Linked DNA regions of Homo sapiens: all the other regions are linked to region 4. Evidence: fine-mapped expression QTL. A gene starts in region 4. Each other region holds a variant in brackets. All regions are shown on one strand. Distances are from middle to middle.

Region 1 (8,303 bases), 53 kb after region 4:
AAATAACTTGTTCTTGAATTTGAAGATGACACAAATGATATTTAAGTCTTTCAAATTCAAATTTTTGGTTTTTTACATTCTTATAATGTACTTAAGAACGTATCTGATGGCCGGCACGCTGGCTCACGCCTGTAATCCCAGCACTTTTGGAGGCCGAGGCAGGTGAATCACGTGAGCTTAGGAGTTCAAGACCAGCATGGGCAACACAGTGAGAACCCTGTCTCTACAAAAATATATATATATATACAAAAATTAGCCAGGTGTAGTGACAGGTGCCTGTAATCCTAGCTACTCAGGAGGCTGAGACATGAGAATCACTTGAACCTGGGAGGCGGAGGTTGCAGTGAGCTGAAATCATGCCATTGCACTCCAGCCTGGGCTACAGAGTGAGACCCTGTCTCAAAAAAGAAAAAAAAGAAAAAACCTTCTTTGGTCTTCTAGTTATGGTTGCTGGGAGTCAGTTTTGTCAAGTTATGCGCCACTGTCAGCAGCCAGGACTGACTTCCTTTAGGCTATGAAACATCATCACTGCCTTTCCGTAATACACATGAAGTATGAATTGCATGAGACCCAACATGAGATCTTATATCCTGCAAATAAAATTTCTTTTCTAAGAGGACTTTATCAGTGGGCCAAAGTAATGAATTTTCTATTGTCTAGTGAACTCACTCTTTTCAGAGAAAAGGTACAATGTAGTCACCTAGAGTTTCAGCATTAGAAGGATGTTCATCTGGTACCACCATCATTTCATTTTATAGATGAAGAAAAGCCTTTCTAGTCTAATGAAGTAGTTCCAAACAAACTGACAAGATGTAGACAAATGGAAGACGCAGAGCTTTGGCAATATTGGGCTTATAAAAGTGGTATTGAGAAATTTTGGTAGAAAGTCCTCCACAGAAAGCAGGCAAAACTAGCACATCTGACCCTGGTATGCAGATCAACAGCAGCAGGAAGTAAATGAGATCCTGAGTGGAAAATGCTGTCTTCCAGATTCTCTTTTGCAGCAGATGTTTATAGTTCGGTTTTTGGGATCAATGGCAGTTAAAACAGACAGCACTACTGAAGTGATTTATGAAGCGATGAGACAAGTATTGGCTGCTCGGGCTATTCATAACATCTTCCGCATGACAGAATCCCATCTGATGGTCACCAGTCAATCTTTGAGGTACGTTCAGTTTTATTTTCAGACTTTCTTATGGCTTCAGCTAATTCCCCTTTTAAGGCTAATGCACCCATCTGAAATGTTAGTACTGGAATGAAGAGACTACTCTTGCTTTTGCCCCCACTACTTTTTACATAAGATAGATAGCCTAGAAAGTGCTCCCTTAGAGACAAGAACTGGTATCTTCAAAAATCCAGTGGTGAGTGAATACTGTTGTTCACAAAGATGCCATCACACTAGACTTATTCTCTATATTATAGCTCAGAGCTTGAAAATGGAAGTTTTTTGGTTTTGCTTTTTTTTTTTCATTTCTGAGAGTACTATTTATAAAAAATAATGGAAAAAAACTTAAAAATCTGCCTAAATAACTTGGCCATCACAGAGAGAGCAGGCCATATTAACTACATGATTTAGTGTTTCAGGTAATACGATCTGGGTTTCAGATATGACCAAAATCCTGGTTATGAACATGGGTGTATGATACTGTAGCCACAGGTAGCATCTGCAGCAAAACTAGCCTGAACTGAGATGTGTTTTCAGTGTTAAATACATACCAAATTTCTAAGATTTAGGATGTAAAACATCTCACTAATTTTTTAGGTTAATCACATGTCTGGTAATATTTTAGATATACTGGATTAAGTAAAATTAATTTTATCTGTTACTTTTCACTTAATGTGGCCGCTGGAAAAACTTCGATGACATATAAGGCTTCCATTACATTTCTAAGGGACAGCACTGCTTTAGAGCCAGAATGTCTCAGTTTATTCCTGGCTTCGGCATTTCTTAGTTATGTGACCTTAAGCAAATTTTTGAGCCTCTGTACCTCAGTTTTTTCAGCTGTAAAATGAAAGTAACTATTCACACCCTCCACTGTTGTCATGAGGAATAAATGTCATGAGGAATAAATGTGCTAATATATGTAAGACATTTACAACTCACTGGCACATGAAAAGTGCTCAATGAACGTTAGCTTCAAAAAAGGTAACTAGGACTATAGCAAAAATTAGGATATAGCTTCTTCCATTCATTAAGCCCATCCTTTTCATTTATTATGAACCTTATCTGAGAATTAAGTTCTTATTAATAAAACCTGTTCTTTCACTATGTCCTGGACCTTTTACAGAAATGGGCTCATGGTTCTTATAATCCTATTGGTCCTGGAATAATTTCCACCAAAAAGATCAAAGGAAAATATATGTAAAAGTACTGTGAAAAACCACAGCACATCAAAGTGAAAAGAAAAACTACAGAATGGGAAAAAAGTATTCACAAATTCTATCTAATATGGATGTAGTACACAAAATATACAAAGAACTCTTATAAAACTCAACAGAAAGACAACCCAATTAAAAAATGGACCAAGGACTTGAAATAGACATTTTTCCAAAGATCATATACAAATGGCCAATGAGGACATGAAAAGATGCTATGTGTTACTAGGGAAATGCAAAACAAATCCACAATGAGATATGTCACTCCATATTAAGATGGCGTGCGCACGCATGCACACTGTCTCACAGATGTTTATATATATATGATATATATGATATATATATGATATGATATATGATATGATATATGATATATATATGATATATCATATATATGATATATATGATATCGATATCATATATATGATATATATGATATATATATGATATATATATTTAATGGAAAATAAGCGTTTAGCAAGGATGTGAAGAAACTGGAACCCATTGCTGGTGGGAATATAAAATGGTTCAGCTGCTGTGAAAAAATAGTTTGGCGGGCTCCTGGGTAGTTACCCAAAAGAATTAAATACAGGTGTTCAAACAAAAACTTATACGCAAATGTTCATAGCAGTCCTTTTCGTGATATCCAAATGGTGGAAATAATACAAATGCCCAACATCAAATGAATGGATCAACAAAATGTGGTAGAGTTGAGCATTCCAAATCTGGAAATCTCAAATGCTCCAAAATCTGAAACTTTTTGAGTGCCAACTTGATGCTCAAAAGAGATGCTCATTGGAGCATTTTGGATTTTGGGATGCTCATCCTGGTAAATATAATGCAAGTATTCTAAAATCTGAAAAAAAAGCTGAAATCCAAAACAATTTCAGATACAGGATACTCAACCTGTATATATATATGATGGAATACTATTTGGCCTTAAAAAGGAACAAAGGACTGATAAGTGCTACAACATGGATGAATGATGAAATCATTGTGCTAAGTGAAAGAAGCCAGGTACAAAAGGCAACATACTGTAGGGTTCTGTTTATATGAAATATCCAGAGTAGGCAAATCCATAGAGACAGAAGACAGACTAGAGATTGCCAGAGGGTGGGAGGAGGAATGAGTAACTGCTTAATGGGGATGGAGTTTCCTCTGGGATGATAAAAATGTCCTGGGACTAGATAGTGGTAATGGCTGCACAAAGTTATGAAGACACTTAACATCACTAATGATAAATCTGACGTTATGCATACGTCACCACAGTAAACATACCCCTGCAGTGGAATAGGTTCTGAGACCATTTAGAGGTCACACAGAAAATTAGAAGATTTAAAAAGAAAAATTGATTCCCAGACAAGGTGCCTGAATAGGAACAGCTCCAGTCTGCAGCTCCCAGTGAGACCAACACAGAAGGCAGGTGATTTCTGCATTTCCAACTGCGGTACCCAGCTTATCTCACTGGGACTGGTTAGACAGTGGGTACAGCCTATGGAGGGCAAGCAGAAGTAGCGTGCGGCATTGCATTACCCAGGAAGCACAAGGGGTCGGGGAACTCCCTCCCCTAGCCAAGGGAAGCCGTGAGTGAGGGACAGACCTATCCAGCCCAGATACTAGGCTTTTGCCACTGTCTTTGCAGCCCGCAGACCAGGAGATTCCATCGAGTGCCTACACCACCAGGGCCCTAAGTTTCAAGGACAAAACTGGGCGGCCATTTGGGCAGACACTGAGCTAGCTGCAGGAGAATTTTTTTCGCACCCCAGTGGCGTCTGAACCTCAGCGAGTCCCAACTGTTCACTCCCCTGGAAAGGGGGCTGAAGCCAGGGAGCCAAGTGGTCTTGCTCAGTGGATCCCATCACCACGGAGCCCAACACACTGAGATCCACTGGCTTGAAATTCTCACTGGCAGCACAGCAGTCTGAAGTTGACCAGGGATGCTCGAGCTTGGTGGGGGGGAGGGGCATCCGCCATTACTGAGGCTTGAGTAGGTGGTTTTCCCCTTAGAGTGTAAAGAAAGCCATCAGGAAGATCATACTGGGCTGAGCCTGCCGCAGCGCCATAAAACTGCTGTAGCCAGACTGCCTCTCTAGATTCCTCCTCTCTGGGCAGGGCATCTCTGAAAGAAAGGTAGCAGCCCC[CA/A]GTCAGGGGCTTACAGATCAAACTCCCATCTCCCTGGGACAGAGCACCTGGGGGAAGGGGTGGCTGTGGGCGCAGTTTCAGCAGACTTAAATGTTCCTGCCTGCCAGCTCTCAAGAGAGCAGCAGGTCTCCCAGCACAACGCTTGAGCTCTGCTAAGGGACAGACTGCCTCCTCAAGTGAGTCCCTGACTCTGGTGGTTCCTGACGGGGAGACACCTCCCAGCAGGAATCGACAGACACCTCATACAGGAGAGTTCCAGCTGGCATCTGGTGGGTGCCCTTCTGGGATGAAGCTTCCAGAGGAAGGAGCAGGCAGCAGTCTTTGCTATTCTGCAGCCTCCACTGGTGATACCCAGGCAAAGAGAGTCCGGAGTGTACCTTCAGCAAACTGCAGCAGACCTGCAGAAGAGGGGCCTGAAGGAAAACTAACAAACAGAAAGCTATAGCATCAACATCAACAAAAAGGATGACTACACAAAAACCCCACCCAAAGGTCACCAGCATCAAAGACCAAAGGTAGATAAATCCACAAAGATGAGGAAAAAGCAGCACAGAAAGGCTGAAAATTCCAAAAACCAGAATGCCTCTCCTCCTCCAAAGGATCACAACTCATTGCCAGCAAGGGAACAAAATTGGACGGAGAATGAGTTTGAAGAATTTACAGAAAGAGGCTTCAGAAGGTGAGTAATAACAAACTCCTCCAAGCTAAAGGAGCATGTTCTAACCCAATGCGAGGAAGCTAAGAATCTGGATAAAAGGTTATAGGAACTGCTAACTGGAATAACCAGTTTAGAGAAGAACATAAATAACCTGATGGAGATGAAAAACACAGCACGAGAACTTCGTGAAGCATACACAAGTATCAATAGTCAAATCGATCAAGTGGAAGAAAGGATACCAGAGATTGAAGATTAACTTAATGAAATAAAGTGTGAAGACAAGATTAGAGAAAAAAGAATGAAAATGAGTGAATAAAGCCTCTAAGAAATATGGGACTATGTGAAAAGACCAAACCTATATTTGATTGGTGTACCTGAAAGTGACAGGGAGAATGGAACCAAGTTAGAAAACACTCTTCAGGATATTATCCAGGAGAACTTCCACAACCTAGCAAGACAAGCCAACATTCAAATTCAGGAAATACAGAGAACACCACAAAGATACTCCTCGAGAAGAGCAACCCCAAGACACATAATCATCAGATTCACCAAGGTTGAAATGAAGGAAAAAATGTTAAGGGCAGCCAGAGAGAAAGGTCACATTACCCACAAAGGGAAACCCATCAGACTAACGGCGGATCTCTCTGCAGAAACGCTACAACCCAGAAAAGAGTGGGGGCACACATTTAACATTCTTAAGGAAAAGAATTTTCAACCCAGAATTTCATATCCAGCCAAACTAAGCTTCATAAGCAAAGGAGAAATAAAATCCTTTACAGACAAGCAAATGCTGAAGGATGTTGTCACCACCACACCTGCTTTACAAGAGCTCCTGAAGGAAGCACTAAATATGGAAAGGAAAAACCAGTACCAGCCACTGCAAAAACATACCAAAATGTAAAAACCATCAGCACTGTGAAGAAACTGCATCAACTAACAGGCAAAATAACCAGCTACCATCATAATGACAGGATCACATTCACACATAACAATATTAACCTTAAATGTAAACAGGCTAAATGCCCCAATTAAAAGACACAGACTGGCACATTGGATAAAGAGTCAAGACCCATCAGTTTGCTGTATTCAGGAGACCCATCTCATGTGCAGAGACACACATAGGCTCAAAATAAAGGGATGGAGGAAGATTTACCAAGCAAATGGAAAGCAAAAAAAAAAAAAAAAAAAAAAGCAGGGGTTGCAATCCTAGTCTCTGATAAAACGGACTTGAAATCAAAAAAGACAAAGAAGGGCATTACATAGTGGTAAAGGGATCAATGCAACAAGAAAAGCTAACTATCCTAAATATATATATACCCAATACAGAAGCACCCAGATTCGTAAAACAAGTTCTTAGAGATCTACAAAGAGACTTAGACTCCCACACAATAATATTGGGAGACTTTAGCACCCCACTGTCAATATTAGATCAACAAGACAGAAAATTAACAAGGATATTCAGGACTTAAACTCAGCTCTGGACCAAGTGGAACTAACACACATCTACAGAATGCTCCATCCCAAATCAACAAAATATACATTCTTCTCAGCACCACGTCACACTTATTCTAAAATTGACCACATAATCGGAAGTAAAATACTCCTCAACAAATGCAAAAGAACAGAAATCACAACAAACTGTCTCTCAGACCACAGTGCAATCAAATTAGAACTCTGGATTAAGAAAGTCATTCAAAACTGCACAACTACATGGAAACTGAACAACCTGTTCCTGAATGACTGCTGGGTAAATAAATAATGAAATTAAGGCAAAAATAAATAAATTACTTGAAATCAATGAGAACAAGGACACAACATACCACAATCTCTGGAACACAGCTAAAGCAATGTTTTTATAGCACTAAATGCACACAGGAAAAAGTGGGAAAGATCTAAAATTGACATCCTAACATCACAATTAAAAGAACTAGAAGGTTGGGCACCATGGCTCATGCCTGTAATCCCACCACTTTGGGAGGCCAAGGCAGGTGGATCACCTGAGGTCAGGAGTTTGAGACCAGCCTGGCCAACATGATGAAACCCTGTCTCTACTAAAAATACAAAAAATTTGCTAGGTGTGGTGGCAGGCACCTATGTAATCCCAGCTACTGGAGAGGCTGGAGCAGGAGAATCACTTGAACCCAGGGAGGTGGAGGTTGCAGTGAGCCGAGATCATGCCATTGCACTCCAGCCTGGGCAACAAGAGCAAAACTCCATCTCAAAAAAACTGGAGAAGCAAGAGTAAACAAATTCAAAAGCTAGCAGAAGACAAGAAATAACTAAGATGAGAGCAGAACTGAAGGAGATAGAGACACGAAAAACCCTTCAAAAATCAATGAATCCAGGAGCTGGTTTTTTGAAAAGATTAACAAAATTGATAGACTGCTAGCCAGACTAATAAAGAAGAAAAGAGAGAAGAATCAAACAGACACAATAAAAAATGATAAAGGGGATTATCACCACTGATCCCAGAGAAATACAAACTACCAACAGAGAATACTATAAACACCTGTATGCAAATAAACTAGAAAATCTAGAAGAAATGGATAAATTCCTGGACACATACACCCTCCCAAGATTAAACCAGGAAGAAGTTGAATCCCTGAATAGACCGATAACAAGTTCTGAAATTGAGGCAATAATTAATAGCCTACCAACCAAAAAAAAGCCCAGGACCAGATGGATTCACAGCCACATTCTACCAGAGTTACAAAGAGGAGCTGGTACCATTCCTTCTAAAACTATTCCAAACAATAGAAAAAGAGGGACTCCTCCCTAACTCATTTTATGAAGCCAGCATCATCCTGATACCAAAACCTGGCAGAGACACAATAAAAAAACACAATTTCAGGGCAATACCCCTGATGAACATCAATGCAAAAATCCTCAATAAAATACCAGCAAACTGAATCCAGCAGCACATTAAAAAGCTTATCCACCATGATCAAGTTGGCTTCATCCCTGGGATGCAAGGCTGGTTCGACATACGCAAATCAGTAAATGTAATCCATCACGTAAACAGAACCAATGACAAAAACCACATGATTATCTCAATAGATGCAGAAAAGGCCTTCGATAAAATTCAACACCCCTTCATGCTAAAAACACTCAATAAACTAGGTATTGA
Region 2 (8,303 bases), 28 kb before region 4:
CCTTATGTGGAACTGATTAGTTCAAAGACCTCAAGCAGAGAGTCTCTCCTTTATTTTCTCAGTAGGTCTGTGAGTTAAGGAGAGGAAGGTTTTATTATTGCTGACATCCATCCTAAAGAAGAAAAAACAGGCACAGAAGATGGTGAAACTTTTCAGGGTCATACAGGGAATCCTTATGACAGCAAGTCTTTCTGTAATAAACTATTGGCTTGCATGCTAGAAGGGACTTGTGGCCCCAGAAGCAAAGCCTAGACCCTGGCCTTCCTCCTTCTCACCTTCCTACTAAAGTCAGGGGCCTGAATGGGACCTTAAAAACAGGATCAAAATAGCTAATATTTATTAAGTTTTACTCTGTGCTTTATGTACATTACATCATTCATACCTCTCTGAAACCTTCTGCAGTAGGTACTATGTCCTCCAGGTAAGAAGAAAGGAAAATAGAGATTCAGCGTGGTTAGGAAGCTTGCTCAGGATGACACAGCTAGCTGGAAACAGAGCTGGAATTTGAATTTGGCCAGCCTTGCTTCTAATTTATACTCTTAACCTGGCACAAATCAGCCATGTCCAATGTACAAAAGGGTTATGTTTTAATTTGTTTGCTTAGAATTGGAACATGTTTTCTCTTATAAACAATTTTTAAATGGTAGGGCTCCCAGATCAGCCCACAGAGGCCTATTTATGCCTTGATGTTGTTCAAATTCACCTATTTGCAGAAAAAAATAGCAGGAACAAGATGTTTCAATTGATGATAATGAAAGTAAATATGAAAGCAAATACAATGAATAAGGAACATTTTAAAAATCTTAAATATCTATGTTGGGAAACTCCAAAATCACTAGAAGAGGTAAATGAAAATTTTGGGAAAGCTTCTGAAAATTTTTCCCAACCAATTTCAAGTACTTTAGAGGTGATTACTGCTGGCCATTTGTTATGAATTTCCTCTTTTCCGATCCAGATGCAACAGCATTAGTCATACACTCATCAAAAATATAAAGGCTGTTGTCTTTCAGTTTTGCACCCAAAAAGAGAGGTGCGTGATATAAAGAAAATGCATGAACTTTGAAACCCAGCAGACAGGGATTAAAAATCAAAATTCTGACAGATAGAGAAGCAATCAGAAAATCTCAGTCCCACTTTAGCAGGGCTTAAGTGAGTCTGTAAGTGGAAAGCTATAAGTTTGGGTTGTCTGGTCATTCCTCTGAACAGAATAGGGTATAAGACCTTGGGTATCACACGTACAGACAGTTCGAAGAATTGGGGTGACTAAGTAAAAAGGCTAAAATTAAGAAAGATTAAAATGTATCATGAGAAACAAAACATTGAAATGAGTTAGGAGAAATTGCATGTACAAAAATCAACTCTGGTTCCAGGCTTGAAAGAAATCATTCTACGAACAAAGTAGGTATACTAATGAATGCCCAGAGGAGACCCACTGAACTGGTAGCTTTTCAAGATATCCCTCGCTGCAGTCAGGCCATAGGAGTGTAGGATAAGAAGAGACTGTAAAAAGTGAACCAGTACATTTCTTGGTTCTGGCTCAAACTGCCCTTACATCAAACCAGAAACCAAACCTTGGTCCTTTACTTAAAAATACCCAGATGATATTGCAAAACCTTTCTCAAGAACAACTGTTAGAAAGTGACATTCTTTTGAAAACTCAATAACCATCAACTTTTGTTAAATATTTTGCCTTCTTTTAGTTTATACTCTTGCCAATTGGACCTTTAGTAATGTTGACTGGAAGATTGATTGACTTTAAAATCCAAATCAAATTCTGAATCCTAACATTTTACATCCAACCAAATGCAGCTATTATCCATCCTTTTTTAATACCAAAAAGTTTTTTTAATACAAGATTTTTCTCAGTATGTCAATAATATCTCAGTAAAAAAAGAAAGACCTGTAAAATTTCAGTATCTTTTGTATGAAAGGTCACTTTTTTAAAAAAGGTGTTATTTTTCCATTTGAAAAATAAGCACACTGGTCAATCAACAGTTTATATCTGGTCCTTTTAGAGATTTTGCAAAACAATGAAGATTTTCTTTTTTTGACAACATTTTTCTTTCCATAAAACAATTATTGTTCAGGGGCAGATTTCATTGTTTTAGCAGTGGAGTAAGCCACAGCCCCAAACTGAGAGGAGAACGTGGAGGTCCTTGAGGCATCTTGAGATAAACAGTTCCCTTGGAAAGCTACAGCACCTTCTGTTTCCTCATCTCCACTGCTAGGAGAGGAGAGTCACTCTCCCACTAGTGAAAAAGCCAGACTTGGGTCTTGTTTATAGGACCAAATCATAGCCTAAGTAAGAGCAGGGAGAGCCAGGAAGCCATCTGACAGCTACAGAAGTTTTCTCTTGTATTACTTTCTTGAAAGTTTCTTAAAGCCCAGGGAATGCCAATCTAGATCCTGTTTACATTTTATATGCTCAATAACGGGGTGATGATCTGATATAAAAATCAGTCTTTTACAGTGTGGTCGGTAATATGTAGCCCTCTCGGGTCTAAGTGAGCCTTGCTAAAGCTACATTCAATGAGCGCAGTCTCTTATCTCACTACTCCAAGAAATATGTGTGTGTGTCTTTATGTGTACACACAAACACAGAAACACACACAGACTCACACGCATATATATAAATTGAAACTATGTGCCAGGGTTACTTGACACACATTTTTTAGTTGATGTTCACAGCCACCTCATAAGCTGGTGTTAATTCTTAAGCTTTAATACCGAGTCTTAAGAAAGGTTACAAATTTGCTGAAGATCTTATAGCTGGTAATGGTGGGGCTGGGATAGGAACCAGATGAACCTGGATGATTGCAGTGGTTAATGTAGCAGCTGTTACCAGTGTCCTGCTTACAGTCTTCACCGACGCTCCAGCTGATGACACAGCTCCCAGTGTGGGCCTCTAGGGCCTGGAGGCTCTTTTTGGAACCATGGAAAGCTATTCTAACTGACATATGCTTGTGCAGAGAAGCACCAGGAAATGACCACAGCCTGTCTGCACTCCAATAGCCCTCCAAATGTATCTCCCCTAGCCACTTGCTACTCAGGAAGAATTATTCTGAGATGTGTTTTTTACGCCATTTTTTAGAACATCCCTGTGAAATTACATTTCAATTGCCTACAGCAGTAGTTGGTTTAATAATGGAGCCTTGGCCAGGCACAGTGGCTCACACCTGTAATCCCAACACTTTGGGAGGCCGAGGCGGGTGGATCACCTGAGGTCAGGAGTTCAAGACCAGCCTGACCAACATGGTGAAACCCCATCTCTACTAAAAAATACAAAAATTAGACGGGCATGGTGGCAGGCGCCTGTAATCCCAGCTATTCTGGAGGCTGAGGCAGGAGAATCACTTGAACCTGGGAGGCAGAGGTTGCAGTGAGCCGAGATCGCGCCAATGCACTCCAGCCTGGGGTGACAGAGCAAGACTCTGTCTCAAAAATAATAATAAGAAGAATAAGAATAAGAATAAGAATAAAATAATGGAGGCTTTACTAGCTTCCTTTCCTGTGTCACTTCCCCGTTTCCTACCAGTATTCCCTGCACTTCCCAAATAAACGACTTATACTCAAATTATTGTCTCAGGGTCTGGTTTGGGAAGAACCCAAACTGAGACAGTCACACAACCCAGTTCAGATATATAGATCCATAACTATGGCTTTCCAAAGATTTCCTTTTGGGGTTTTACAAAGGCCACAAAATGAGGAGTGCAATTGAACACAATAGAAGGGAGAACTATATACATTTTATTATTCAGTTAATACAGTTCTATCACAAACCACCACTTGTTGGGGTCTGACTATCATTTTCCTATTCCCTCCTCACAGAGGAAGTGCAACCCTAAGAAAAGAACCCTAAGGAAAGGATGGTCAAGATAAGTCTTTTTCTTCTGGTCTTTGGGCTGGAATCATTTGTTCTGCGGATGTTCTGTGTCTACCACTCTGACATGCTGGGATGGGACTTCCTGCATGGGACTACTTATTCCAGATCTCTGCTCCATGGACTTTTTCAAGCTTTAATTTAAAGGGTTTTTAAAACAGAATTTATTTTTTAGAGTAGCTTTAGCTTCACAGCAAAATTGAATAGAAAGTACAAAGAGCTCCCATATAGTCTCTGCCCCCCACAACACAGCCTCCCACACTATCAACACCCGCACACTGGAGTGGCTACATTTATTACAATGGATGAGCCTACATTGTCATCTCATTATTGCCCAAAGTCCATAGTTGACACTCTTGGTGTACATTCTATGAGTATTGGCAAATGTATAACGACATGTATCTACCATTATAGTATCATACAGGACAGTTTGGATTCCCTAAAATTTCTGTGCGTTCTGCCTCTTTATTCCTCCCTCCTCGCAACCCTTGGCAACCACTGGTACTTTCACTCTCTTCATAGTTCTGCCATTTCCAGAATGTCACATAGGTGGACTCATACAGTATATAGCCTTTTTCAGATGGGCGTTTTCACTTTATAATATTCTTTGAAGTTTCCTCCAAGTCTACTCATGGCTGGATAGTTCATTTCCTTCAAGCGTTGAATTATAGTTCATTGTCTAAATGTACCCTGGTTTATTTATCCATTCGCCTACTGAAAGACACCTCAGTTGCTTCCAAGTTTTGTCAATTATTATTAAAGCTGCTATTAACATCCACGTGCAGGTTTTTGTGTGGATATAAGTTTTTAATTCATTTGGGTCAATACTAAGGAGCACAATTGCTGCATCATATGGTAAGAGTATACATAGTTTTGTAAGAAACAGCCAAATTGTCTTCCAAAGTGGCTGTA[C/T]CATTTTGCATTCCCACCAGCAATGGATGAGAGTTCCTGTTGTTCTACATCCTTTCCAGCATTTTGTGTTGTCCGCATTTTGCATTTTGGCCATTCTGATAGGTGTGTAGTGGTATCTTATTGTTGTTCATATTTCGGCACCATTTTTTACATCACTTACATTGCTGAGGAAGGCTAGCCCTACAAAGTGTCAACGATGTACTACTTATCCCAGAGGGGGTGGCTTCTCTCTCTATTTGCTTGAGGACACAGCTCTTGCAGCTCCCCTGTGGAGGGGAAGGGATCCAATTCTATTACTTTTGGGAAACAGTGTCACTTGCTGGTGGGACTCATGAAAGGTCCCTCTCTGGGGGCTGGTTCTGTAACACTTCCAGGTAATGTCACTGACTACTTCCTGGGACCACAGAAGTTACTGTTCAGGGCTTTCTTACCCATTTCATTTTTAGTCCCTTTCTTGCTAAGCATGCCATGAAGGCCAGTGGTTTTCAATCTCATTTGTCTTGATCATTTGACAAATAATCAAGTTTTCTAACGATTTACACTTTGTTCTTAAGTTTAAAAAGATGCAAGATTATCTTTATAACTTTATATTTCACCTGTTTTCCAAAACGCTTTCTTTAGTATGAGGGAAAGGGATGGAGTAAAGCCAAATGGGAGGAACCTAGAAATTTCCATAGCACATGGGAGTGTCATGGGGAGAATTCTGAGAACCTCTGGGGCAGGCTTTTGTCTTACTGGGCAGTGCTCAGCATTTGGAAAAGCTGATGATGAGGTGGGGGCAAGAGGTGGATGTGAATGCAGAGGCTTAAAGTTTTACCAAGCAATGACCTAATAGCAATAATTTTTTTTTTTTTGAGACAGAGTCTCACTCTATCCCCCAGGCTGAAGTGCAGTGGTGCGATCATGGCTCACTGAAGTTTCTATCTCCTGGTCTCAAGTCATCCTCCCACCTCAGCCTCCTGAGTAGCTGCAACTACAAGCGCACACCACCACACCCAGCTAATTTTTTGTATTTTGTGTAGAGACATGGTTTCATCATGTTGCCCAGGCTGATCTCCAACTCCTGGGCTCAAGTGATCCTCCCACCTCCGTCTCCCAAAGTGCTGGAATTACAGGCATGAGCCACCGTGCCCACCTGCTAGCCACTATTCTAAGAGCTTTGTATGTATGATTGTATTTAGTACTCAAAACAGTAGCAGGTACTTTTACTATCACCTCCATTTTGCAGAGAGTTTAAAGAACTTACCTGTAGCTCCAGTGGTGCAATCAGTTAGTATATGGTACTCTTAAGAACTTACCAGACAGCACAGAGATACGGACTGAATCTAGCCAGGCTGATCCAGGTTCTGTGTTCCTCAATGTGCCACATCACCTTGATGCTGAGACTCATCTGAGACTTTCTTAGTGGCATTTCCTCACCCCACGCCGCCTCCTCTGTTAATAGCATGATATTATTAGGTTGGCACAAAAGTAATTGAGACTTTTGCCATAAAAGTAATGTATCCATTCACCTACTGAAAGACATCTTGGTTTCTTCCAACTTTTGTTAATTATTATTAAAGCTGCTATTAACATCCATGTGCAGGTTTTTGTGTGGACATAAGTTTTTAATTCATTTGGGTCAATACCAAGGAGCACAATTGCTGGATCATATGGTAAAAGTACGTGTATTTCTGTAAGAAACAGCCAAACTGTCTTCCAAAGTGGCTGTATCATTTTGCATTCCCACCAGCAATGAATGAGAGCTCCTGTTGCTCTACATCCTTGCCAGCATTTGGTGGTGTCAGCAAACCTGCTCTCCCCTCCATTCTATTAGATTGGTACAATTACTTTTGCAATTACTTTTTGCAATTACTTTTGCACCAACCTAATAGAATGGAGAGGAGGGCAAGTTTCCCAATGACTGTCCTCACTCACCCGTGTATTTATTCATTCATTTAACTGACAACTTCTGATCAAGCTCCAATTGTGTGCTGGGTACTCTGCTTAACCTTGAGAATACAGCAAGGAATGGGACAAAGTTCCTTCTACTCTCATAAGAAGTATATCTTTCATGTTGGAAACCAACAATAAACATATACATAAATATGGAAACTGTGATGGTGACAAGTGGCGGGAAGAGAAGAAACATACACAATAGAGAGTGTCTGGGAACTACTTTAGATTCAGTGGGCTGAGACCTGAGTCACAAGAAAGGCTTCATGAGAAGATCTAGGTTAAGAAAGCCCCAAACAGAAGGAAAGGGAGCCTACTGCGTGTGTTTGGAAACACAATAGGGTGGCATTGTTGGAGTGAAATAAGGGGGCCCGGGGCCCCACCAGGTACAGCCCTACAGGCCATGGAGAGGACCTTGGATTCTACAGCATGTGTAATGGGAACATGGGAGGGTTTGAGCAGGGGAGTTAGATGATCCACATACACCTCATTTTTTAAGGTTTTCGTTCCTTACAGGTGCAGTGGCTCACGCTTCTCATCCTAGCACTTTGGGAGGCCAAGGCAGGAGGATTACTTGAGGCCAGGAGTTTGAGACCAGCCTTGGCAACATAATGAGATCCTGCCTCTACACAAAGATTTAAAAATTAGCCAAGTGTAGTGTGTGTGCCTGTAGTGCCACCTACTCGGGTGGCTGAGATAGGAGGAGTGCTTGAGCCCAGGAGTTCGAGGCTGCAGTGAGCTATGACCACGCCACTACTCTCCAGCCTAGGTAACATAGCAAGACTTAGTCTTGCAGAAAGATAAAAAAAGTTTTCATTCCCTGATTTCACCTGTAGCAGGAGTTGCCAGCTGGTTGACAGAGACCTTTCTGCCTGTGTTAGTGTTTCGTGTCTTATTCAGTTGATCTTCAAATGGGTAGCTGCCACCATATTCCTTTTCCTACTGATTTCCAGGATTCCCAGCTAGGCAGAATCTGAGTGGTCCAACTCTCAATCTGTACACTGCTCTTAGGGCCCCAGAGAGCCACAAATAGACTGCAAAGCTGTCAGCCAGCCCCTAGGTTGTGCCCAAATTCTGTCTGGCCTGTGTGTATGTCGGCGTGTGGAGAGGTTGCTCTGCATTCCCCAGATACCCAAAGAGATCCCTAAGCCACAGAAACATTAAATCCACTGCTCATCTGCATGAGAAAAATGCAATGAGGGAGAACCCCTGACAAACAACTCTACTTGCAAAAGTAACACCTGGGATCATATCGAGTCCACATAAAATGCTTACAACTATCATATAGATTTTGGAGATGAATGTTAAGTGCTCGACAAATATTTGTTAAATGAATAAATGAGAAATTATCCAGCTCCCCATCCCCTGCATATTTCATGGTTGAGAAAACTGAAGCCCAGATGGGTTCCATATTTTGCCCAAAGTGACATATTTAGAATGTGGCAATGTTGAGCCTCAAGCCAAGATCTTTCAACTTCAATAACTGAACTCTCCACTTCAGTACACATCAGATTAAAGAACATATTAAGGAATATTTGCCACAAACGTAAATATCTTACTGGGATATTAGAATGCA
Region 3 (8,303 bases), 44 kb before region 4:
CCAATATCATTTTTATTGACTATATGCTATGCTAATGCAAGATTACCATTTCTGTAACTTCTTGTGATGTTACAAAAATTTTTTTGAAATATTTGCTATAAACTACTTCAAACTATAAAGTTATCTTTAAGGACAAATGTATATACCTATGCAGGTGTATAAGTATTTGCGTGTGAATGCATAAACTATCAGGAGGGGGGAATCCATGACCAACTGAAAACATTGATTACCTTTGGGAAGGGTAACTGGCTGGCTGGGGAGGTAACGGAGGATGTTTCTTTGTATGCCCTTGTGTTCTTTGTAAATTTTAAATCAGGTTTAAAAACACAGCTTATCAAATAAGGTTTTGAGCAGTGACAGAAAAAGAAGGAAGAGAAGCAGAAATCATAAATGAACATTCGGTTTCAACCCTGTGTCTCTCAGAAGGTAATCACCAGCAGTAAGAAAAAGTTTCTCCCTAAACTTCAGAAAGGAAGTGCCTACCTTCTCCAGTGTTCACTTTGTTCTTCCTTTGAAAATGATTTGCTGAAATAAGCATTTTTATAACAATGTGGTAAAAAGGAGTATCTAGCACAAGAATAAATATTAAAGAAATTCACAATCATCAGCAAGATCTAAAACTAAATGTTCCTCCTTTCCAGGGATACTGATAATTTTTAAATGTTCTTTTTACAGTTTGTCACATTATTGCAGGAAAAGCACTATGATTCTTTTGAAATTGTTTTCCAGCTTTTAAAATATAAGATACTCATATTCATCTCTTTGATGAATATAACTTAAGTGTTCCAAAAACAAGAAATCCATAGCAGTTAGAAGCAGGAAACTCTTGTGAAATTGGCAGAGTAATCTCAGGAATTGGAGAAGGGGTGGTCTTTACATATAAGTATTTTTCAAATTAAAAATTATTAAAGAGGTTATTTTTTCCTTTTTGCTGGCCGAACTTAAAAAAGTCAACTTTTATTTTATGCTTTAACTATGTTTAATAACTTATTTAGAGTAAGTAATTCTGGAATAATTCCCAGTACTGAGTCTATAAATTGAGGCTAATTCATTTGAACAACTGAAAGCAGTGTATGCTGATTGCTGTTTTTTAAAGAAAATTAAAAGAAAATTGCTTGTGTTAGAGAGTATTTCTTAATAATTAAGAAGTGATTTCTCAATCTCAGAAGTAGTACAGCAGAGGGATTTAAGAGCTCATGTTTGCCTTTTGCTGTTTTGCATTTTAAAAACGCACCCAAATTAAAACCCATGTGTAAATTGTTGGGCTTTTACATGTTTTTTGTGAAATTAATCTTTGTTAATTAATGACCATGTGCCTTACCCCAGAAAGAAGGAAGGATTCCATCATTTCACAAAAATTCCAAAGAGCCCTGGGTAGATGTGGAGCTGAAGGCACCCATCCCTCTCAACTCCCCAGCCTCCCAGCATCCTGAACCAACAACCCAACAACCCAGCTTCTGTGACTGGCACCTCCAATCCACTCAGTTGCACAGATCAAAACTGTGGGAGAGATTTTTGGTCTCTCTCTCTGCTTCACCCACCACATCCAATCAACCACAAAGTTCTTCTCAGCGAAGTTCCTATATAGACATGTCCATATTTGATATCCTCACTTTCCTACTTCCCATTCTGTATTCAATTTAGTCCAGTTGGGTTATTATCTCTACCACTTCTCCATTATCAAGGTCATTATCAAGATGTAGATACTCTACATCTAGCCAAAGCCTAGTTCCTTTTTCATTACCTTTTAGTTAACCTCTCAGCAACAGTTGACCATGCTGTCACTCTTGAAAGTCTTTTCTGAGCCTTTGTAAGATCACTCACCTGGACTTTCTCTTAACTCAGTGGCCACTCTTTCTCAGCCTTTTTATTTTGTTCTTCCTTTCTGTAAGGCTTCTATCTTTTAGGTAGCTCAAATTTCTATCCTTGGCCCTGTCTCTTCTCTACATTCTCTCCCTTGACTTCAAGTACCATCTCTATATTTATGATACTCAATTCCCAACCCCCCAATTCCAGAATCATATATCAACTTGGAAGTCCAGTAGGCATCCGAATTTTGTAGAACCAAAACAAAGCTATCTACTTTTCTACTCCTCTCTCTCCCCTACCAGTCAGCCCCTTACCTGCTTCCTCACTAAACCTTCCTCTTTTTGGTAAATTGCACTGTCATATTCTCAATTGCTCAGGTACAAAACTTAGAGCTTATTCTGATTTTTCCCTCACCCTAAAATCTTGCATCGAGTCCAGCCATGTATGTTGCTGACTCAACCTCCAAAATAGAACCACAACCCTACATCTCATCACCCAAGTTGAAACCATGATGTCTGGCCTCATCTTTGCAGCAATCTCCCAACGAGTTCCCCTGCCTCCACTCTTACCCTTACACAGTCCATCCTCCACACAGCAGCCAGAGGAGAGATTAGACTCCTTAACTTCTCCTTCTGGGTACTGCCAATGGTTTAGCATTAACCTTATAGTGGCATCTCATTGTGGTTTTGATTTGCATTTTCCTAAGGATTAGTGATGAATCTCTCTGTGCTTATTGGCTATCTGTGCATCTTCCTTGGAGAAATGTCTATTCAAGTCCTCCAATTAAGTAAATTAATTACAGTACATTAAAGTAATTAAGGTCCATTTTTTAATTGAGTTGTTTGTGTTGTTGAGATGTAGGAGCTCTTTATATATTCTGGATTTTAACCCCTCACCAGATACATGATTTGCTATTATTTTCTCCCACTCGATGGGTTGCCTTTTTCACTCTGTGATAATATCGTTTGCTGTTGTACAAGTTTTCTATTTTGATGAAAAACTATTTCTTCTTTTGCTACCTGTGCTTTTGATGTAATATGCAAAAAATCATTATCCAATCCATGTCATGAGGTTTTTTCCCTATGTTTTCTCCTAGGAATTTATTAGTTTGGGGTCCTACATTTAGGTCTTTCATTCATTTTGAGTTGATTTTTGTGTATGATCTTAGATAAGGATTCAACTTCCTTCTTTTGCATGTGGATGTCTGGTTTTCCCAGCACAATTTTTTGAAATCTGCTCTTTCCCCCATTGAATTATCTTAGCACCCTTGTCAAAAATTATTTGGCCATGGCCGGTCATGGTGGCTCACGCCTGTAATCCCAGCACTTTGGGAGGCCGAGGCGGGCGGATCACGAGGTCAGGAGATCGAAACCATCCTGGCTAACACGGTGAAACCCCGTCTCTACTAAAAATACAAAAAAATTAGCTGGGCATGGTGGTAGGTGCCGGTAGTCCCAGCTACTCAGGAGGCTGAGGCAGGAGAATGGCATTAACCCGGGAGGCGGAGCTTGCAGTGAGCCGAGATCGCGCCACTGGACTCCAGCCTGGGCCACAGAGTGAGACTACGTCTCAAAAAAAAAAAAAAAATTATTTGGCCATACAAGCAAGAAATTATTTCTGGACTTCCTATTCTATTTCACTGTCTTTATGTCAGTAATCTACTATTGATTATTGTTGCCTTGTAGTAAGTTTTAAAATCAGGAAGTGGGAGCCCTCCATATTTGTTCTTTTTCAAGATTGTTTTGTGTATTTGGCGTCCGTTGACATTCCATATGAATTTTAGGATGGGCTTTTCTATTTCTGCCAAAAGTATCATTGAAATTTTATAGAAGCTGCATTGAATCTATAGATTGCTTTAGATGGTACTGCCATCTTAACAATAATCACCCATGAACATGGATGACTTTCTATTTAGCCAAGCCTTCTTTAGCTTTTTTCAGCAATGTTTGATACTTATGTACAAGCCTTTCTCCTCATTAGTTAAGTTTATTCTTAAGTATTGTATTCTTTTTTATGCTATTAAAAAGGAAATTGTTTTCTTAATTTCACCGTTGGTATAAAGAAACAGAATTTTTTTTGTGCATTGACTTTGTATCTTGCAACTATGCTGAATTCATTCATTAGTTCAACACTTTGGATTTCTTAAATGAAATCTTTACGGTTTTCTAGATATAAGATTATGTCCTCTGTGAACAAGGGTAATTTTACTTCCTTTCTGATTGGTACTGTTTTTATCCTCACTTTATAAATTATAAACTGAGTATATCAGATAAGAATGCATTCAGTTGTACATAACAAAATTTACTGGGGCTTGACAAATGAATTG[C/T]TTATTTTTCTCACTGAATAAGGAGTCCAAAGTCCAGAGCTGATGCAGAAACTGCACTATACAATTAAACTACTGGACTCTAAAACAAACAGCAACAACAAACAACTACCAGGCTCCTTCTGTTTTCCCTTCCTGCCTTCTTAGCATGTTGACTTTCCTTTCCAAGCCACAAGGTGGTTGCTGCCCCTCCAGGATCATGTCTGCATCTAGGCAGGAAGAACAAGGAAGGATTTTCTCCTCCTAAGGATCTGCCTTATATTTGGTATGGATTATGTTCCCGACTTACCTCAGCTGACTCGCCTTTCCATCTCTCTGGTCATACCTGGGTTGCAAGCCCACCTTTAGACTAATCGCTGACCAAAAGGAATAAGATTTCTATGAGTATTTTTGACCAATCATGATTCATATCCTGGGGCTGGGATAGGGTATAGGAATACCCGAGGTCAAGGGACATCACACTAATATCAGAACAGATCTGTGTTCTGTTAGCACCAAAGAGGGCTTTTGGCAGGTGATATCAGTGGAGCTAAGGCACAGAGAGGTCAAGTGATAGACCCAAAATTCAAATTCAGACGGTTTAAAGCCTGCTCTCCTAACCAGATCAACAGAGGAACAGAAGGTTCTGTGCCCAATAAGCCAAACTGAGTTAATGATTGAGTAGCACTTGTTATCCTAGGACACTAATGAGAGTGGGGATACCAAAAGGCAGAGATATCAGAATCCCCTGGAGGCCTTCCTCTAAACTATGGCCTCTCCCCAGAAAGTTTGCCGTGATCCCCAAGTAAAAGTGTGGCCCACAGCCAACCCTCATTGGAATCAATGTAGTCTGAGTCACTGTTAACAATGGCTTTGTTGAATTTGGGAGGAGGGAGGGGACTAAGAACCACTCTGATAAGAAATATGCAAACTACAAGAATTCAGTTTTATGTCCTTTAACTGGTTTTGGGCGATTTGCTTTTTTCATTTTGTATTCTGATACTATTTCTTTAAAAAAAAATTCTGAGTCTTTGTTAAATTAAGTGGAAAAGGAATTTGTCTCTACTGAGTCTCGATACTTATGAAGATGTTTTAAAGAAGCAAATGTCTAAATATTAACCACTTTAAGTCCTTTTCTGGAGCAAAACAAATAACTAGTGTGTGTGTGTGTGTGTGTGTGTGTGTGTGTGTAATTGTTTCTGCATTTAGGATTGCTGAATTGAGATTTAGTTCATGCAGTTCAATTCAACAAACATTTACTAAGTGCCCCATACAAGATTCTATACTGGTTACAAAAATGAGTAGTTTTGCAAAAAAAGTTCAGGGAAATCTGTAAGTCCTTAAATTTGTTTGCAAAATTCCAGGATATTTGCTTAAATGATACATATATCAGTAAAGAGTTCTTCTTAACCTTCATCAGATTCTTAAGTGCTTCTGTGACACACAAAAGGTTGACCCACTGATCAGAATGGTCAGTCCCCAGAGGTGGGATGTGGCCACAGTAGTCCTTAGGCAGCAACAAGATGCATTACAAGGTGGGTGGCATTACTTTGGTTCCAGGAGAAACTTCCCCAGGGATGAAGGAAAATTCTAGCCACTGGACATAGACAAGAACATAGTTCAACCCCCGAGAGAAAAGGCTAGTGCGAGTTCAGCCACACAAGTCATGACTTACCTCTGCCAGTCAGGCCAGACACACAGGGTGGGTGATTGGAAGGCTAGAGTTGGATAGTTCCAGTGGTGCCCAGGGAGTCACTCAGGCTTAATAAATGCTCATTTGGGGGAACGGCAGAAATTCTGTTCTCTACTTGCTGTGCAAATGGGCGCATTTTATGTGCTATCAGGCTTGGTGAGCACTGACTTAGGAGCTGAGCCCATGGGTTGGAAATCTTAGGTAGAGCACACCCTTGGATCGCTCTACCTATTTCCAACCCATGGATTTTTAGTGGTGGTTGGCTTGTAGTATGGCGGAGATGCACAGAAAAATCTAATAACTTAATTACAGATAAGGGCTATTGTACTTGAGTTATTTGATTTTTCTGTGCATCTCGCCCTACTATATACTACATACTCCAAGGGTGAAGAGTAAGGAAGAGACCAGGTAAGCATGCAGAGAAGTTGGTGTAGAAGGGATAGGAGTTGATGAACTTAGCTTTGTTAGTGAAGTGAGACTTCCTGCAAGCCCTGACCATGCAGGTTTATATAGCCATTTAATCACCAGAAGCAGCGGTGAAGAAGAGAGAAGGCTGTCAGCACAGTACAGTGGGTAAGGCAGCACAGTGTGTTGATTACCAGCATGAACTCTGGCGCTAGACAGCCTGGGTTCAAATTCTGGCTCTGCCCCCTAGTGGCTGTTTAACATCAGGCAAGTTATTTAACAACTGTGCCCCAGTTTCCTTATTTGTAAAATGAGAGTATAAGGGTACAGTCATGCATCACTTAATGATGGATATTTATTCTAATAAATGCATCACTGGGTAGTTTTATCATTGTGTGAACATAATAGAGTTAACTTACGCAAACCTACATGGTACGGTCTCCTACACACCTAGGCTGTAAGGTAGAGCCTGTTACTCCTAGACTACAAACCTGTATGGCATGTGACTGTACTGAATACTGTAGGCAATTGTAACACAATGCTAAGTATTAGGTTGGTGCGAAAGTAATTGCAGTGATGGCAAAAACTGCAATTACTTTCTCACCAACCTAATATTTGTGTATCTAAACATAGAAAAGGTATAGTAAAAATATGATATCCTAATATTATGAGACCACTGTCATACATGCAGTTAGTTGTTGACGAAAACATTGTTATGCAGTACATGACTGACTTTAGCCCATAGGATGTGGGCTAAATAGGTTGTGATGATTAAACGGATTAATCTTCAAAAAGAGCCGGGAACAGTGTCTGACACAGGGTAAGCATTCTAAATCAAAATCATGATTAAGGCAGGGTTGAGAACTACCAGAAAGTCAAGGAGGTGAGGGGATTTAGGTAGATGTAGTGAATTCATTGATGCACCATATGGGCCAAGGTGGAAAAGGAAGAAGATAAAATGAAGCCAGGAGGGGTGACAGGCTTAGAAGATAGGGAGGAGTCAAGAAGAAAGAAAGGGGAAGAATGATTTTAATGGACACAAGATCATGAAAAAGGTAGACTAATAAGACGCTTTTAATTTTTTTTTTATTTTTTTATTTTTGTGGATATGTACTAGATGATCTGATACAAGAAGAACTTCACAATTTTAACTTCTAGAGGTGGCCCATTTGGAGAAATGGCAAGTCCCAAGGTGTGATCAGGCAAGTAGAGGTAGCCAAATGGATAGGAGGGGAATGTTATTGGAGCAGAGAGCCAGGGTCGAGAACCTGGGAGGACATCAGTGTTAGGTGACTGATCTAAGGAATGTTGAAGTCCCAGAGACAGCACAAGCAGGGGAACAAAAAGCCAAGTGCCAAGGCCCTGTAGTCCAGCTTGCTTTCCCACACATGCATGCCCTCTGCCCTTTCCTTATCTCTAAGGCAGCTCAGGCTCAAACGAGTGGTAGCTTAATAGTGTATGGACTTTGGGGTCAGTACTACTAGTCCTGACTGCCTGCTGTTGACTCACTGCTAACATTAAATTCTTCAGGATTCTATTTTATCACTTGTAAAATGGGACTCAATATCTGCCTAATAGAGTTTTCAGAATTAAATGAAATAATGTGTGTGAAGTACTTAGTGCACTCACAGTCAGTGCCGAGAAAGCAGCCTTGAACATCCTGGCACTGGGCAGATGCTCACAGCCAGGCCATGTTCTCCTACTGGATAGAAACAATATTACAAGACTTCAGTGTCAGCCAAGGCCACTCTGAGATCATGATAAAGTGAGAAAAAACATGGTCACTGTGCAGCCCATAAAATATTAAACATTCCCCTCTCTAGGCCGAAATGAGTGACTGCTACTTCTTTACCAATTATGGTTTTTTCCCTGCTCTAGTCTGTCCTACCTAGAGAGAATATTTTTTGAGATGCCCAGTTGAAGGACTGCCGCCCCCCCCCTTCTGACAATACCCATTCTAGAGTGGGCTTCTGCTTCATTAGACCCACCCCTAAATTACCCAAGCATGTCCCAATCCTATAATAAGTTCCTTCTGACAACCTCACACTGAGAAGTTCCATGGTTTTTCTAAGGTATGAGTTCTCCCTCGATGAA
Region 4 (8,265 bases):
ACATAGTAATAGTTCAATAAGTAAGTGTCTGTTTGCAATTATTGTTATTCCTCTTATTATCACCAAAGATTTTAAATAGCGGAGTGGCAGGATCAAATTTGTATCCTGAGTGAAAGTCAAAGGCCAGTCGCCACCATGAGATGAATACTTGAGAACTGACGAGCTTTTTTCTCCCCTTCATTGTTTTCCATGGTGATCTCTCAGGCGTGAAGGACTCCAAACCTCCTTGGAGGTCATGAATTTCCTCTCTGTTTCCATGGACTGGCTACAGGGAGCAATGAGAGGACAAATGAGAGGACAGTCTCATTTGTCTCATAAAGCAAATGAGAGGACAGTCGGTGATACAGAACCTGAGTCACAAGTTTTGGGTGGAGAGAACAGGATTGAATGCTGCCATTCAACAAGCATTTGAAAAGCATTATGGGAGGCCGAGATGGGTGGATCATGAGGTCAGGAGTTCAAGACCAGCGTGGCCAAGATGCTGAAACCCCGTCTCTACTAAAAATACAAAAATTAGCTGGGCGTGGTGGTGGGCGCCTGTAATCCCAGCTATTCAGGAGGCTGAGGCAGGAGAATTGCTTGAACCCTAGGTGGCAGAGGTTGCAGTGAGCTGAGATGGCACCACTGCACTGCAGCCTGGGCGACAGAGTAAGACTCCATCTCAAAAATAAATAAATAAATAAATAAATATTAAAAAAAATTTAAAAAAAAAGAAAGAAAAGGAAAGGAAAGCATTTGTTGTGAGTCAGACACTATGTAGGCACCTGGGAGGTAAAAGGACAGGAATCCTAGGTTTGGGTAGTCTGAAGCTTCCTACTGAGCAGGCTTCCTTCTTCTCTTTGGGTACAGTGGGCAGAGCCCTGGCATTTAGAATTTGGGCCCTGTCACATCATTTGTTTGAGCCTCAGTTGTAACGTTTATCAAATGAGGATACTAATACTTATGCCTCACCTTCCTGTGCTCCAAGATGACTATTTTATGCCATCTCCTCTCTCCTCAAACCTTCAATACCATCTGACCATTATTGCTTTGAGCCGATGGCCTTGCTTCTTATCTCACTGAGAAAAATAAAAGCAATCAGAATAGAACGCCTTCATTCCTCCCATTTAATCTACCAACCTACTGTTCTTGTATCACTATGAACGTACTGTCCTTGCTTCTATCTAAGGCCATCCCTATCCCTTGTGATTTGTTTTTTGCATTTTTTTTTAAAGAGTCTCACTCTGTCACCCAGGCTGGAGTGCAGTGGTGCAATCTTGGCTTACTGCAACCTCTGCCTCCTGGGTTCAAGCGATTATCTTGCCTCAGCCTCCTAAGTAGCTGGGACTACAGGTGCTCACACGCATGCTCGACTAATTTTTGTATTTTCAGGAGAGACAGGGTTTCACCATGGTGGTCTTGAACTCCTGGCCTCAAGTGATCGACTTGCCTCAGCCTCCCAAGCCTATCACTTGTGATTTGGATTCTACTCCTTTTTGTCTGTTCAAGGACTTTGTTCTTGCAATTGTCACCTCTCTCTCATATCTTTAGCTTTTCCCCCACTCTACTGGATCATTCTCATCAGCATATAAATAATCTAAGAAATCCAATCTCTTTCAGACTTTTATGTTTTCTTTAAGCCAGTTGGAGTTAGGTTTCTGTGATTTGCCACTTAAAAAGTCTTGACTAATACAGGACATAGAGACAGGTGTGTATGGAAACAACTTGTGATTGGTAATGCCATTCTCATATCATAGGGAAGTAAACTGAAGCTCAGAAAGATTAAATACCTTGCCTAAAGTCTACAACTTTTCTATTTTAAAACAAGCAAACAAACCAAAAACCTCCCTTTTTTTAAATCATCCCCTGCAGTCACTTCCCCTTCAACCACTTCCCTTTATTGAAAAACCTCTTGAAAGAATTGTCTTTGTATTCCCACCATTGCTCTTGAACAGACACCATCTTGCTTTCAAATAAAATTGCTCTTATCAAAGTCTCTTACCAAATTCACCGAATGACCTTCCTATTGGCAAATTTAAAGGTCAATTTCTGGTCTTTATTCTTACTTGATCTCTTAGCTGCATTTGACATTGTGGATCAATTCATTTTTGAAACCTTTTGTCCCCTGGCTTTTAGTATAGTAGTGCCTCCAAGTTTCCCATTCATAGGGCTTCTAGGGTGGTCTATTAGTCTCCTGATATTCCTCCTACACCATTAGCTGCTGGATCTTGCTTGGGCCTCAATCCACCAAGCTTTCCTCTTTCCTTTCTGTATTAGATTCCTAAGAAATCTCATCTACTCTTTTGGTTTAAATAACGTCCCCATGTTGGTGAACTCATGGATTTATACCTTCAGCCCCAGTCTCCTCCTAAACTTGAGTGGTATATACAAGTACCCACATGAAACCTCCACTTGATTGCCTAACGGGCATCTCAATCACAACAGCCTGAACAGCACTATTGATGCGCCACCACCAACAACCTGCTTCTCCCCAGGGTTTTCTGTCTCAGTAAATCACAGGACCATTTGCCCAATGGCTTTCCCACTTTCTCTCACATACTACATCCAGCATATCCTGTCAGTTCTACTTTCAAAATATGTTCAGACTTCAACTACCTCCCAACATTTCCATACCCTCGACTTTGACCTATATCTCTCAAATCTCTTGCTTGAAGGATTGCAAAAGCCTCTTCAGAACCCAGAGATAGTCTTTAAAAATGTAAATCAGACCCTGTCATTCAGTTGCTCATATTTACAGTGGCTTCCTGCCATATCAAGAGCAACACCCAAAGTCCTTCCCCATGGACTCAGCGTCCTCTGTGAGCCAGTGATTGGCATCTCTTCAACCTCATCTCCTCCCACTCTTTCCCGCCTCGCTGTCCTTAGCCACATTGGCCTTTCTGCTCCTCCTCAAAGAGGAGCAAGCCTCAGGGCCCTCACACTTGTTCTTTCCTTCGGGCTGGGCTTCCCTGATTCAATTCTCAGCTCAACAGTTGCACACCTCAAAGAATCCTTTCCACTTCCCATGATCCTCTATTCCTTTACTAAAGGTTATCATACACTTATCAACTTGTATTTGTTTCTTATTATTTCCTCCATTAGAATATAAACTCCATTAGGGCAAGGACTACTTTTTGCTTCAGCCTATATCCTCAGCTTCTAGAGAAGAGTCTAACACACAGTCGGTGCTACCTAGTGAATGATTAACGGCAAAAGCAGCATTGTGCTATCAAATGAAATGAGATTCATGAAAACATTTTTTAAACTCTGGAGTATCAATCATGTATAAGTTATAATAACACATTATAGTTTAGTAAGTATTTATCAAGCAACTGCTTTTGTGCTAGGTAATGTACTAGGCACTCTAATTACAGAAATAAATAAGACCAAGTTCCTACCCATTCTAGCTGGAAGGTTGGAGGTGGAAACAAAGAGAGGTAAGTGTTATTCTAGAATTATCTCGGCAAGTGCTACTGAAGCACACTCAAGGAAAGGAAAATGTATTCTGCTTGGGGGGACAGGAGTAAATGAAGACTTCATCAAAAAAGTCACATTAAACTGGGATTTGATGATTGTGGTTGGGTTTGTCAGACAAGAGGCAGGAGAAAGGGCTTGACTGGCAGAGGAAAGAATCTCAATGCGTGTGCCCTATCATGCAGTTTGCTAAGCATCTCCCAAAACAGCTGCCTTCTTCACTCCTGCCTTTCTCTCTTACTCCTGAAGCCCCAGGCCTTCTCTGACCTGGCCATCCTGGGTCCTTTTTTTGTGTCTCACTGTGTCCTTTTCCCCACTGGCCTTCAATGGGTCACAGGTTACACCTCCATATAATTCATCCTCTCTCTCTTCAGACATCACGACAACTCCAGACTGTCCATCTTTATACTTCCTGTCACCAACTTCACAGCTGACCAGGGATTTCAGAGACAGTGGGGTGGATTTCTAAAATCCACCTGCATAATAGTTTAATAGGAACAGATATATACTCTTTAATGAAACATTTTTAAATGTTCATGTTGACATAAAAATTCCTCTTATGTAGTTTCTCACAGATTATCAAAGGAGAGGATATTTGCCTTCAGAATTTAAATGAGAATCAAACAAGTGGGAGACAGTGCTTAACACTGAGCAGTCTATATTTAATACATGAATGAATGATTGGATGAATTAACAAATGAGATAAATTAAAACCATTTATGCATGTGTTGTATTTCCAGATCTACTTTTGTAACTTAGTTGTTTTGAATTTGGGATAGATTTTCCCATAGAAACAATGTTGTAAACAGTTCTTAAGTTCCAAGAAATCCCACTAAGGCTGTTTAGCCCATAATGTAGCAAGAAAATGCAGAAAAGTAATGGGATAGCTTAAACAATTTTTGAATGTTGAATACTAGTATTTGAAGAAAAGTAACTTTAATTAGAAGATGAGGTGGTACATGAAAAATGCTGTGATTCCCAAGGGGCTGTCTGAGCCCTTTCAAGGGTTCTGAGGGCACTAACTTCTTGTAATGCATATTTTCAAATTAAAATGTGCACATTTATTTCCCTGGGTATAATACTATCCTTGTACTGTTCTCGCAATCAGGATGAAGGAAGAGCATGAGTCTGGCCGTGAGGAATTAGATTTCAGTGAGAAGAGAGTCTGGGACACTGGATGAGGTAAAATGAACTGAATGGCAGGCGGTATAAAATAGAGGAAAGGGAAGAAATATGGTGTGAGCATGATTCCACCTATAGGGAAGACAAGAGTATGGTGGAGGCAAGAAAGAATAGGGAAGAAAGAATACTGTGGAGGAAAATATGGTAGATGGAGGCCATAAAATGGTTCAGGTCAGGTTGGCGCTGGCCAGACCAAGGGAATAATGGCCTTGGAGTTTTCAAGTGATCAGGCAGCATGCTACTATACTAGACTGTCAGAGGTGTCAGCAATGCAGATTGGGTCTTGATATACCTAAGAGGTCTCTGCAGAATGCAGAATTTATATATTACCATATCCCCTCTGTTGATTTTGGTGACACACATACTGCATGATTTTTTTTTTTTTTTTTGAGACGGAGTCTTGCTCTGTTGCCCAGGCTGGAGTGCAGTGGTGCCCTCTCGGCTCACTGAAACCTCTGCCTCCCGGGTTCAAGTGATTCTTCTGCCTCAGCCTCCCGAGTAGCTGGGATTACAGGCGCATGCCACCACGCCCGGCTAATTTTTGTATTTTTAGTAGAGACGGGGTTTCAGCATCTTGGCCAGACTGGTCTTGAACTCCTGACCTCGTGATCCACCCATCTCGGCCTCCCAAAGTGCTGGGATTACAGGCGTGAACCACCACGCCCGGCCAGTCTTATTAACTTCTAAAGAAGGAACTTCAGAAACCCTTGCCTTCCGTGTAAAAAGGTGTCACGTTCCACTTGCCAGTCTTCTTCCATCCCTCTCCCTTCCTTCTTTTCTTCCTCTGGCGTTTACTAACTGACCCTGGGCAGACCACTTATTTCTCTGGGTCCCATTTTCTCATCTCTAAATGACAACACTGGAACCTAGATTATCTAGCCCTTCCAATTCTAAACATTTGATTATGAAATTCTCCAAAATCACAAAACATAAACCAGGAGGACGAGACCTAATTATGACCACATCAAATAGCTGTGGTTTCCAAAGTGGTTATTTCTGATTATCACAGACGAGTCAGTTATCCAGCTTTTCTCCTCTTTTCTTTGTTCCCATAGCATAGGCGACCTCTTTGCTCTCAGAGCTGTTTCAGGGGCGTCGAAATTTATCTAGAAAAAGTGGTGTGGGAAGTGTGGGTTTTTCCTTCCATTAAAAGAAAAAATCTGTTCGCTCCTTCAACTCAAAAGGCTTTCTGGGTAGCCATAAGCAGATAAAACCTTATCTTTCTACCCTCGAGTTCCTCTTTTGGACTTCATATGCATTGACTTGACGGACCTTCAGCACAGAGAACAAACACCCGAAGGGTTCCCTCAGCAACGGGACTGGCACCCAGAGCCCCCCGCTCCCCGCGAGCCGGCGAGCGCAGGCGGAAGCGCGGGCGCCACATTTCCGGTGTCGGGACCGGAGCTCACCACACTTCCGGTTTCCCTGCCGGGCGCGCCACACTTCCTGTTGATCCGGCTCGGCCGGGGGCTGGGCCGGCGGGCAGGCGGCGGCGGCCACTGGCCAGGCGTGGACGCGCGCGGGGCCGCCGCGGGCACGGAGTGGCCGCCGCGTCGCCTGAGCCCAGAGCCGGGGAGTGCTCTCGGCCGCCGCGTCTCCTGCCCTCTGTCCTTCCAACCCAGCCCTCGGCTGAGCCGCGCCGCACCATGCCCGCCGTGGACAAGCTCCTGCTAGAGGAGGCGTTGCAGGACAGCCCCCAGGTACCTCCCGCCGCTCCGGTGCCCCTCGCCCGCAGGGGTGAGGCCGAGGAGGCCCCTCCAGCCCCGGAGTGGAGGCCGCGCCCCCGGCCGGGCAGCCGCGGGAGTGCGCCCGGCCCCCTCGCGGCGCCTCCCACCGGGTTCTCTCGGGCTGAGGAGGGGGCGGGCCGGGCCCTGAGTCCTGAGCCGGGGCAGAGCTGTGGAACAGGGGAGAGAGCCCCGCGGCCGGAGTCTTGATGTCGTGACCCCCCTGCAAGCTCAGCTGCAACTGAGTCTGCGAGATCTAAACTTTGATTCCATGTAGTAGCTGAGTGCCTCAGGAAAACCACCTTATTGTGCCTTAGTTTTGTCGTCTGTAAAATAGGAATAATAATTGTGCCTGCTTCATAGGGTTGTTAGGAGAAGTCAATGAGAAATACCTGTAAAGTTGTCAGCAGACAATGTCCGGTACAGATAATGAGTCAGTCTTATTACTGCTACTCCTAATGATGTGATGAGACTTGTGCCAGCCAGAATGAGAGGCAGAGGGCCTGGATCTCTTTTCCGGCGGTACCAGGCCTCCTTTTGGCACCGTTTTCCCATTAGTGAAGAGAAAAATACAGTACCTGCCCCATTTGTCGCACAAGGGAACTTCATTAGCACACTCGAGATGAGAGTCAAGTCCTTTGAGCTCTGCAGATGAAAACTGGTGTGTAAATATAGCAAATGAGTGCAGGATGACATTAGTTCATAATTCAGCACATCTTTCCCCAGGGGTCTTTTGTTCTCCTTTGTTTAACATTTCTCCAGCTTCGTACCTACACTCCTGGTTCAGCATCCCGGGTTTATTTAAATAAGTGCCTTTATTTCCTAGTGTCTCAACTCTTGAAAACTTAGAATAAGATTAACCTATTTTCGTTTCACACTTTCCCCTCTCTTTTGGGGTTCCTTCCCTTTTTCTTCTAAGTGAATAATACTTCCCAGGATGATCCTTGTATGGATTTACCTACATCGACAGTTCAGAATAAGTCCGAAGGGCTGTATGCATAGGTGTCTTTTGTTCATTTTTTGTGATCCTCCTAGTGTAGATAAGTAAGGAACTGGAAGCAAGCTGTGTGTGTGTTTTTTGTTTGTTTGTTTTGTTTTTTGGTAAGTTTGCATCCTCTGGACGACTTTTTCAAGGCCTCCCTTTTTTATATGGCTGTAGACTCCTGGCATTTTAATCAGACTAAAGCCCTTGGTAGAAGGCATTTTGTCCATGTTCATATCTGTTGTGTGGAATCTGAAGATAGCAATGTGAGATTTTAAATGATCACTTTGAACAAGGATCTCTGTTTGCCTTGCACTTATGGAAACTGAGGTGCACAGAAATATCCTGCTTTTCTAACCTACATGGTGATGCCTAAGCCAGGTTACAGTGATTATACTAACTGATTCTTGATGTTGTCCTCACAAACAGATCATATTCTTAATTTCCAGCTCTAACATAAAGGAATATACACTGTTTGTGAGTGGCTTAAAGGATTTGCCCAGCTGTGAGGAAGTAGACAGGACTGTAGAGCAAGTCAGGAGACCTGGGTTCTAATTCTGGCTCTCACGCTCACTTAGGATGTGATGTGGGTGAGTCTCTTCATCTCCACCCTGTAGCTGGCTCAGTTTCCTAATCTACAGAACATCTACAGAATGAGAGACAGGGAGGGAGCAGGTGATCTTCAAGGTGCTTTAGAGTTAACATTGTCATATCTACATGGTGTATAACTTTGAACTTGTATGTGGCAGAGGAGGTTTAGAGATATTATCATTCTTATTTAATATGTTCCTTTTAATATAGGAAGTTTATTTGTCATTGCTTTTGAGACTTGGCCATCACCCTTAAGAGGGCTCTTGATGGTGCTGTTGTGCAGAATGGAAGCTGACTTTAAGAAGGTCTTTAATGATCATCAGAGCATATTTA

What was found. PIP is the estimated chance that this variant, and not a neighbour inherited with it, causes the effect.
Region 1: its variant is fine-mapped to the expression of APPL2 in whole blood (INTERVAL, PIP 0.96).
Region 2: its variant is fine-mapped to the expression of APPL2 in blood mononuclear cells (TOPMed, PIP above 0.99).
Region 3: its variant is fine-mapped to the expression of APPL2 in pancreas (GTEx, PIP above 0.99).

What each region holds. Positions count from the first base shown.
Region 1 is chr12:105,181,135-105,189,437 of GRCh38, reverse strand. APPL2 (adaptor protein, phosphotyrosine interacting with PH domain and leucine zipper 2) reads left to right here. Exons shown (of 21, transcript NM_018171.5): 17 at 991-1,165. Among named protein-coding and RNA genes, the nearest start is that of APPL2, 51 kb to the left of the region's middle. The variant CA/A (reference allele first, on the strand shown) is at 4,518.
Region 2 is chr12:105,262,494-105,270,796 of GRCh38, reverse strand. No RefSeq gene overlaps it. Among named protein-coding and RNA genes, the nearest start is that of APPL2, 30 kb to the right of the region's middle. The variant C/T (reference allele first, on the strand shown) is at 4,793.
Region 3 is chr12:105,277,807-105,286,109 of GRCh38, reverse strand. No RefSeq gene overlaps it. Among named protein-coding and RNA genes, the nearest start is that of C12orf75-AS1, 45 kb to the left of the region's middle. The variant C/T (reference allele first, on the strand shown) is at 4,136.
Region 4 is chr12:105,234,029-105,242,293 of GRCh38, reverse strand. It overlaps APPL2 (adaptor protein, phosphotyrosine interacting with PH domain and leucine zipper 2), which reads left to right and starts at 6,120. Exons shown (of 21, transcript NM_018171.5): 1 at 6,120-6,335. The coding sequence starts at 6,282. RefSeq lists an enhancer at 5,737-6,237 and silencers at 6,102-6,241, 6,292-6,541.